Linked DNA regions of Homo sapiens. The protein of the gene in region 1 purifies or fractionates together with the protein of each later gene. This does not show direct contact. Each region holds a gene or a part of one and is shown on either strand. Other genes may lie near its edges.

Region 1 (3,814 bases):
ATAGTTATTTGCATTCTTGGTCATTGTATTTTCTAGGGCTGCGGTAACAAAATACGACAAACTGGGTGATTTAAAACAACAGATTTATTGTCTCAGTTCTGGAGGCAAGATGTCTGAAATCAAGATGTAGGTATGGCCATGCTCTCTCAAGGTTCGAGGGGAGAATCTGTTCCATGCCTCTTAGCTTGTTGTGTTACTGCCAATCCTTAGCATTTTTTGGCTTGCAGCTATGTCACTCCAGTCTGTGACTCTGTTATCACAACATAATCCCTGTGTGGCTCTGTCTTCAGATGGTGTGCTCCACTTCTTGCAAGGATACTAGTCGTATTGGATTAAGATCCACCCTAATCACCTCATCTTAACTTGATTACATCTGCAAAGACCCTATTTTGAAATAAGGTCACGTGCAGAGGTACTGGAATTAGGACTTCAACCTATCTTTTGTGGGGACACAGTTTAACCTGTAACAGTTGCACGGTTTATCTTTTACATCGTTCAGTAAATGTTTAGCATTATAGACTGAATCAGAGGCTATAGTGGAAACAGGATGGGACACTTACATTTATTTACATATATCAGTGATGTCTTAATCTGTTTTCTGTTGCCTCTAGCAGAATATCTGAAACTGGATAATCTATAAAGAAAAGAAATTTATTCCTTACAGTTAGGAAGGCTGAAAAGTCCTGGTTCAGGGGGCCACATCTGGTGAGGGCATTTGCTGGTAGGGACTCTGCAGAGTCCTGAGGATAGCACAGGGCACCACATGGTGAGGGGGCCGAGCATGCTAGCCCAGAACTCTTTCTTTCTTTCTTTCTTTCTTGTAAAGCTACCAGTTCCTTTCCCATGATAACCCATTCATGAGGGCTGAACCCTTAGTACCCAGTCACCATTTAAAGACTCCAGCTCTCAATACTGCCACAGTGGTGATTAAGGTTCAACATGAGTTTTGGAGGAGACAAACATTCAGACCACAGCAAGTGCTTACTATGTGCCAGGTCCTGGAGATAAAACAGTGGATAGGCAAAAATCTCTGTCCTCATGGAGCTTACATTCTGAAACACGGGTTCTAAAAATGTGGTCCCTGGATCTGCAGCATCATCATCACCTGGGAAGTTGTTAGAAATTGAAATTTTCAGGCTCCATCCCAGAACTCTTTATTTAACTAGCCTTCCAAATGATTCTGATGGAGACTCAGGTTTCAGAACCACTGATCAAGATGGAAAAGAGACAGTAAACAAGATGAATAAGTAAAATAATATTTGATATTAATAGGTGCTGTGGGTAAGCATAGGGTGGCCAGTGAAGACTCCTGAAAAGTAAAGACCTGAAGGAGTTGGAGAGTGAGCCATATGAGCACCTGGGTGCGTGTTCTTAGCAGAGAACAGTTAAGTGTGAAGACCCTGGCACGTTTGAGGAATGACAAGCAGTTAGTATTAGGTTCAATCTATGAAATTGCTGCTGTTTGTTCATTTTTGACCTACAAAAACACCAAATACTGGGGAGAAGAGATCAGAAAGAAAGGGGTGGAGTAGGATGCAGATTGTGGGTAGATCCTTGTAAGGTTTTGGCTCTCTAAGATTAGGAAGACGGGAGGGTTTTGAGCAAATGAGTGATGTGATCTGATTTCAGTTTTAAAAGGATCATTGTGGCTATTGGTAAAAATGGGCCAAAGAAGCAAAGGCTAAAGGAAGGGGAAAGTTGGTTAGAATGTTGTTGGAGTAGTTAAAAGACAGAGAGGTTGCTCAGACCAGGGTGATAGCAGTGGAGAAGTCAGAAGAGGTACAAGACTAAAAACGCACAGTAAATGGTTTGAAAAGTAAGTTTTTTTCATCCCACTCCAGTTACCCAGTTGTCCTCCTCAAAGGCAATTAGTGTTAAAAGTAGTCTTATCTCTATTCTTCCTGAGATTTTTTTTTTTTTGAGACGGAGTCTCACTCTGTCGCCCAGGCTGGAGTGCAGTGGCGCGATCTCAGCTCACTGCAAGCTCTGCCTCCTGGGTTCACGCCATTCTCCTGCCTCAGCCTCCCCAGTAGCTGGGACTACAGGCACCTGCCACCATGCCCAGCTAATTTCTTTTTTTTTTTGTATTTTTAGTAGAGACAGGGGAGATCTTTTATGTAAATGTGAGAAACAGTTTTAACAAATTAGTGGAGAGGTTGTTACCTGGAAACATTTAGCAATGTCTACAGACATTTTTGTTTGTCACAACTAGGGGGAATACTACTGGCATCTAGTGAGTAAAGGCCAGGGATGCTGGCTAAATATCCTACAGAGGACCGGACGGCTTCCACAACAGAGAGTTATCCAGCTCTTAATGTCAGTAGCGCCAAGGTTAAGAAACCTTAGTTTAATGGGATTTACAGAGGTTGGTGGGAAGCAAGTGTTGTAGTCAGAGAAGACAGTAGGAAGAGGAGCTGACCATATTGGGAACCTTTCAGTAACTGTAGACAGTTCAGGATTGCTGAAGCAGACATAAATTATAAGGCACAGAATAGCAAAAGACGAGGCTGGAAACCTGGACAGGCTCTAGGTCATAGCCTTTATTTATATATCATGTTAATAAAAAATGTTTAGTTTTTGTCTTGTAGGCAGTGGAGTTCCGTGAAAGGATTCATGGGGTGACATGGTCAGCTTTTCATTTTAGAGAGCTCATTCTGGTGACGGGGTATGAGTTAAAGAGGGATAGCACTTGAGTCAGAGAGGTTAGATATTGTAATAGCCTGTGGGGAGAGAGGAGAGTCTGAAATAGGATAAATACTAGAAATGGAGAGGAGACAATGGATTAGAATAATATTTAGGAAGTAATGTTGGCAAGACTTGGTAATTGGATTTGGGGTGAAGATAAGGGAAGCATTAAGAATATCTGTGTACTTTGTAGTTTAGATAATCCTGTGGCTCTGAGTGAAATAGGAACCCATTGGTGAATAATTTAGGTAATTACCAGTAATTAAGGTAAAATGAGCAGAGGAAAGTAATGAGTCACTTTGGAGGTGTTGAATTAGAGATGCCTATGGTCCAGGTGGAAGTATTTAGCAGGCATTTGTGTATGTGAATCTGAAACTTGGAGAAGTCTGAAAGGATCAAGAGATCATTTTGTTTGACAAGTGTGGAGAAATTAGTGGACTTTAATTTTTATCATATTATTTCACTCTGTAGATAAAAATTGCCTCCCTTTATTTAATTTTTATCAGAAAAGTAATGTGTGTACCCGATGCAAAATTAAAACATCAAAAGGTTATAAAATAAAAAAAAATTTGTCCTTCCTTGCTCATGCCACCCAGTGCTAGTTCCCAGAGATAGCTCTTGTTAAATATCATATGTATATATATCTTAACAGATTTTAAAATATATACAGAAACATTTAAAAAGCCAAGTGAAATCATACTAGAAAATATTTCGGTACATTGTCTTAAAAAATAAACCTTTTATCTTATACAGTTGTTAAAATGAATGACATTGTGTTATGGATAAAATAAGTGAAGGGGTAAATTAAAGTGCAGACTAACCGATAAGCATGATCTCTGATGTAAATTAAAAGCTGAACATACATATGTGATGATATAGGCATTACCCAACGATACGAAAGCAGTTACTTTTGGGGAGAGATAGTGGTAGAGATGGTAAAGAAAATTTACTCTTTTCTGTCTATGATTTTCTTTCATTTGTTTAGGTTTGTTCCTTTTGTTTTCTTTACATTTTCTGATGTTTAAAAAAATACCCAGTATACCTTATTAACAATAAAAAGTAACCTTTGTCAAAAGCACAAAGATTTTCCCTATCAGCACATGTAGATCATTGTTTTTAACAGCTACTA
Region 2 (3,814 bases), on another chromosome or scaffold:
TGCTCAACCTGCGTGACCCGCCCCGGGAGCACCCCTACCGCAGCAGTTTTATCAACGTGACTCTGGAGGCCGTGCTGCACTCCGGCTTCCCCCAGCACCAGGTGAGGCCCTGCAACGCAGCTCTGCCCCCGGGAGCCCTGGCCTGGCTAGAGCCCTGCTGCTGCATAGCCTTTCCCTGTTGCACTCCGGACTTCAGCTTTCCCATTTGTAAAATGGGGATCACACACTGCTCACTTCCCTGGCAGGGTCATCATGGGACAAGAGGGGAACAAGAAAACACTTTAAAATGTATAAAGGTCCAGGCGGTCAAGTTATTTCAGTGAAGTGTTGCCCTGTCGTTTGGTGTAATAATCTGGGACCAGAGAAATCTGACATCAGTTTAGGACGGCACACTAGGTGCTAGTGGCCATGTGCAGAGTAGTGGCTGTTTGGGTTTTCCCTCCCGTACTGACAGCAGGCCAGAAGCGAAGTTTCCTGAGTTGCTGCCAGTGCACTTTGCAGCCTTGGCTGGGACTGAGTCCTGCCCTGCTAATGACTTCATCTAAGCTTTCACCGCCTGCCAGGTCCTGTCTCTTAACCCCACAGGTGCTCTAGGAGGAGTAGGTACTCTTACGCATCGTGCAGAAGAGAAGTCTGAGGCTGCCTCTCTTCTGCCTGCAGGTCATGTGGCTGCCTAGCAGGCAGAGGCCCCTGGTGCGGAAGGTGGCTCCCGGCTTCCAACAGACATCAGGCTCCAAGGAGGCAGTCGCCAGCCTGCGGAGAGGCCACATCCAGCGGCTGAACCTGCGCTACACTCAGGTGTCCCGCCAGGAGCTCAGGTGCCTGCCCTGCCCTGGGCTCCTCCAGGAGAGGGTGGGACTGAGTCTCTCCCAGTCCTGCCACCACCACCCCCCAACACACACACACACACACACACACACGGTCGGGCAGAGGGATGGGCACACAGAGGAATCAGGCACACATGGTTCAAAGACAAGAGGGTGAGCGTGTCGGGCAGACCCGGGCTTGTCCCGGAGCTTGGCCCTCTGGAGCCAATGTTCCTTGCCCCGGGCATGGCTGTGAGGTCGTGAACAGGACGTGCTTTACCAGCCCCGACACTGGGCCTGGAGCTGCCAGGGTCCGCATGCTGACCTGCCTCTCCCCTGCCCCACAGGGACTACGCGTCCTGGAACCTGAGTGTGAACCTCTACACAGTCAACGCACCGTGGCTCTTCTCCCTGCTGTGGTGTGCGGGGGTCCCATCCGTCACCTCTGACAACTCCCACGCCCTGTCCCAGGTGCCTTCCCCCCTCTGGATCATGGTGAGTTGGGGGGCAGAGGGCCCCTGGGGGGCAGTGCTGGAGCTGCCTATAGCCTGCCCTGACCACTCGGCAAGCTCTGTGCTTGGAGCTGTCCCTGGGAGGTCTCTAGCATGGTGGGGAGTCCATGGTGGGCGTGCAGGCTTGAGGCATGAGGGTTTCATGGCATCTGGGATCTGCACTAAGGTGCTGGGAGGACCCTGGGCCTCATCCACAGGGAGAAAAGCATCACTAAGGGCTCTAAAGAAGTAAAGAGCTGCTTGGGTTTCTTTGCTTTGGAGGGTAACAAGGACAGGAATAGGAAGCATTGACCGGGCGTGGGGCTCACGCCTATAATCCCAGCATTTTGGGAAGCAGAGGCAGGATGATCACTGGAGCCCAGGGGTACAAGACTAACCTGGGCAACCCTGTCTCTACAAAAAAAAATAATAATAATTAATTAATTTGCTGGCCAAGGTGGCACACGCCTGTAGTCCTAGCTACTCGGTAGGCTGAAGTGGGAGGATTGCTTGAGCCCAGCAGGTCAAAGCTGCAGTGAGCTGTGATCACTCCAGCCTGGATGACAAAGTGAGATCCTGTCTCAAAAAATAAAAATAAAAAAGAATAGGAAACAATTAAAATCTGCTCAGAGAACAGCAAATAAAGCAATATTTTAGCTGGTTGACTGGGCACCTGCAGATAGGTGGTGGCTCCACTGTCACCCTGAGCATGCAGAAGGCAGGTGGAGGGTATCCTTATGGCTGAGAGAATGCAGTGCCAATGAATCAGACCTAAGCTGTGGATGGTTCTATGGGAGAGGAGGGTGAAGGGAAGGCAGCCTGGGGAAAGGGTCGAGACCGATGGATGAGAGTCGGCAGCGGGGGGCGGCAAAGCCATTGTCTTTCAGTATCTGGCTCCTGCTTTGAGGACCCTAGACACACAGACCCTGCAGGCCTAGCACACAACCCCTCTGCCCTGAGCACCATACAGTCCCCTCCTACCCTGAGAGTGCACACGTGTGCACACACACGCCCCGGCCCCCAGGCCCACAGCGCCTGGAGCCTACACCTGCAAAATGTCATCTTCAGCCCCCAGACCCTCTCAGGGTCCTCCCTTGCCCTTCCCCAGTGGCCATGTGGGGTCCTTTGGTCCACGGACCCTCAGTCTGGAGCCTCAGTCTGGACTGGCCATGACTGGAAGTTGGCCTCGGGCCGTCTGTCCACAGCCCCCGGACGAGTACTGTCTCATGTGGGTCACTGCCGACCTGGTCTCCTTCACCCTCATCGTGGGCATCTTCGTGCTCCAGAAGTGAGTAGGATCTGACCACTTCCGTGGCTGTCCCTACCCTGCAGCAGGCCCAGCCCCCACCCCAGCCAGGTGAACCCTCTCCTGAGCCCTGGGCCTCAGCCAGGAGCAGGCCTGACCAGGGAAGAAGGACGGACTCCGGTGGCCCCATCCTCCCTCAGACAGAGGCTGGGTGACTTCTGGAATGAACATGCAGCTGGGATCCCAGAGCCAAGCTCTGCCTTGGGTGGCTATGTGGGCTTAGGTGAATTTCAGCTCCTCACCGGGCTGGCCTGCTCATCTGTTAGCCAGGGCATGGGTTCCCACCAGCCCTCAGCAAGATAGCTGGGGTGTGCTCGCAGTGGGGAGGTGTGGTTGGTCCCAGGGAGGGTCTAGGGCCAGCCTGGGGCCCCCACCCAGCCAGGAACCAAGGGGCTGGGATTTTATTCTTGACTGATGTTCTCTCTCTGTCCCATCCTGCTCTGATCGGCGCATGTCCCTCCTCTCTCCCCCTCCCCCTCTCTCTGCTGCACTCTGGCATCTCACAGCTATCACTTGATCAGGTAATTCTGGTGTGGTCTTCCTCCTCCTTCTGTTCCTCTTTCTCCCTCTTGCCATCCCTTCTCCAGTTCTGTCTAAAAACCCACCGTGCACCAAGCCCTGTGCCCGGGCCACCTCGCAGACAGCGCGCTCGCCTGAAGCCTCCCTTACCCCCGCAATCCTCTTTTCTGCTCCTCCCGTCCCACTGCCGTGTGTGTCCCTCTGCTCCCTGTTCCCACGGCCGTTTCTGCAGGTGGGGACCAGCGTTTCCTTGACAGCTTCCTGACCTGGCCCCTCTCTGCACCAAAGTGTCTCCCTGGGGGAGGGGACCCTGCCTGGGTACCCCCATCCCCCTGCCTCTGGCACTTACAGGGGCCTTCACCACTTGCCCAGGGCAGACCCTACCAAGTTTCTGCCTCTCTCTTCCCATCTTCTCCCTCCCTGGCTCTGCCTCTCCCACTGTTCACTCTTCCTGTTTACCTTTCTCTGCCTCTCCCATCTCTTTCTCTCTCTTCTTTACATTCTATCTCTAACACCCATCCCTGCTTTGCTCCCCGCAACACACAGCCTTTTCCTCATTCCCCTCAGAGGACCCCACAGTGGCTGAGCTTCCTGTTCTGGATATGCCTGGCCGAGAGACCCTGGCCTGACACTGTCCTTCTGGGTTTCAACATGAATTTCCAGGATGGGACCTAGAGCTTAGGGACCCACGT

Evidence for each region.
Region 2: the proteins of C1GALT1 (region 1) and GDPD5 purify together in Homo sapiens (co-immunoprecipitation; one large-scale study listed by IntAct). This does not show direct contact.

Annotation. Positions count from the first base shown.
Region 1 is NC_000007.14:7,185,348-7,189,161, forward strand, and holds part of C1GALT1 (glycoprotein-N-acetylgalactosamine 3-beta-galactosyltransferase 1), read left to right. Parts: intron 1-36; exon of another isoform or gene 37-130; intron 131-3,814. UniProt on the Homo sapiens protein: Glycosyltransferase that generates the core 1 O-glycan Gal-beta1-3GalNAc-alpha1-Ser/Thr (T antigen), which is a precursor for many extended O-glycans in glycoproteins.
Region 2 is NC_000011.10:75,438,650-75,442,463, reverse strand, and holds part of GDPD5 (glycerophosphodiester phosphodiesterase domain-containing protein 5), read left to right. Parts: coding exon 1-101; intron 102-660; coding exon 661-818; intron 819-1,153; coding exon 1,154-1,301; intron 1,302-2,502; coding exon 2,503-2,585; intron 2,586-3,814. UniProt on the Homo sapiens protein: Glycerophosphodiester phosphodiesterase that promotes neurite formation and drives spinal motor neuron differentiation.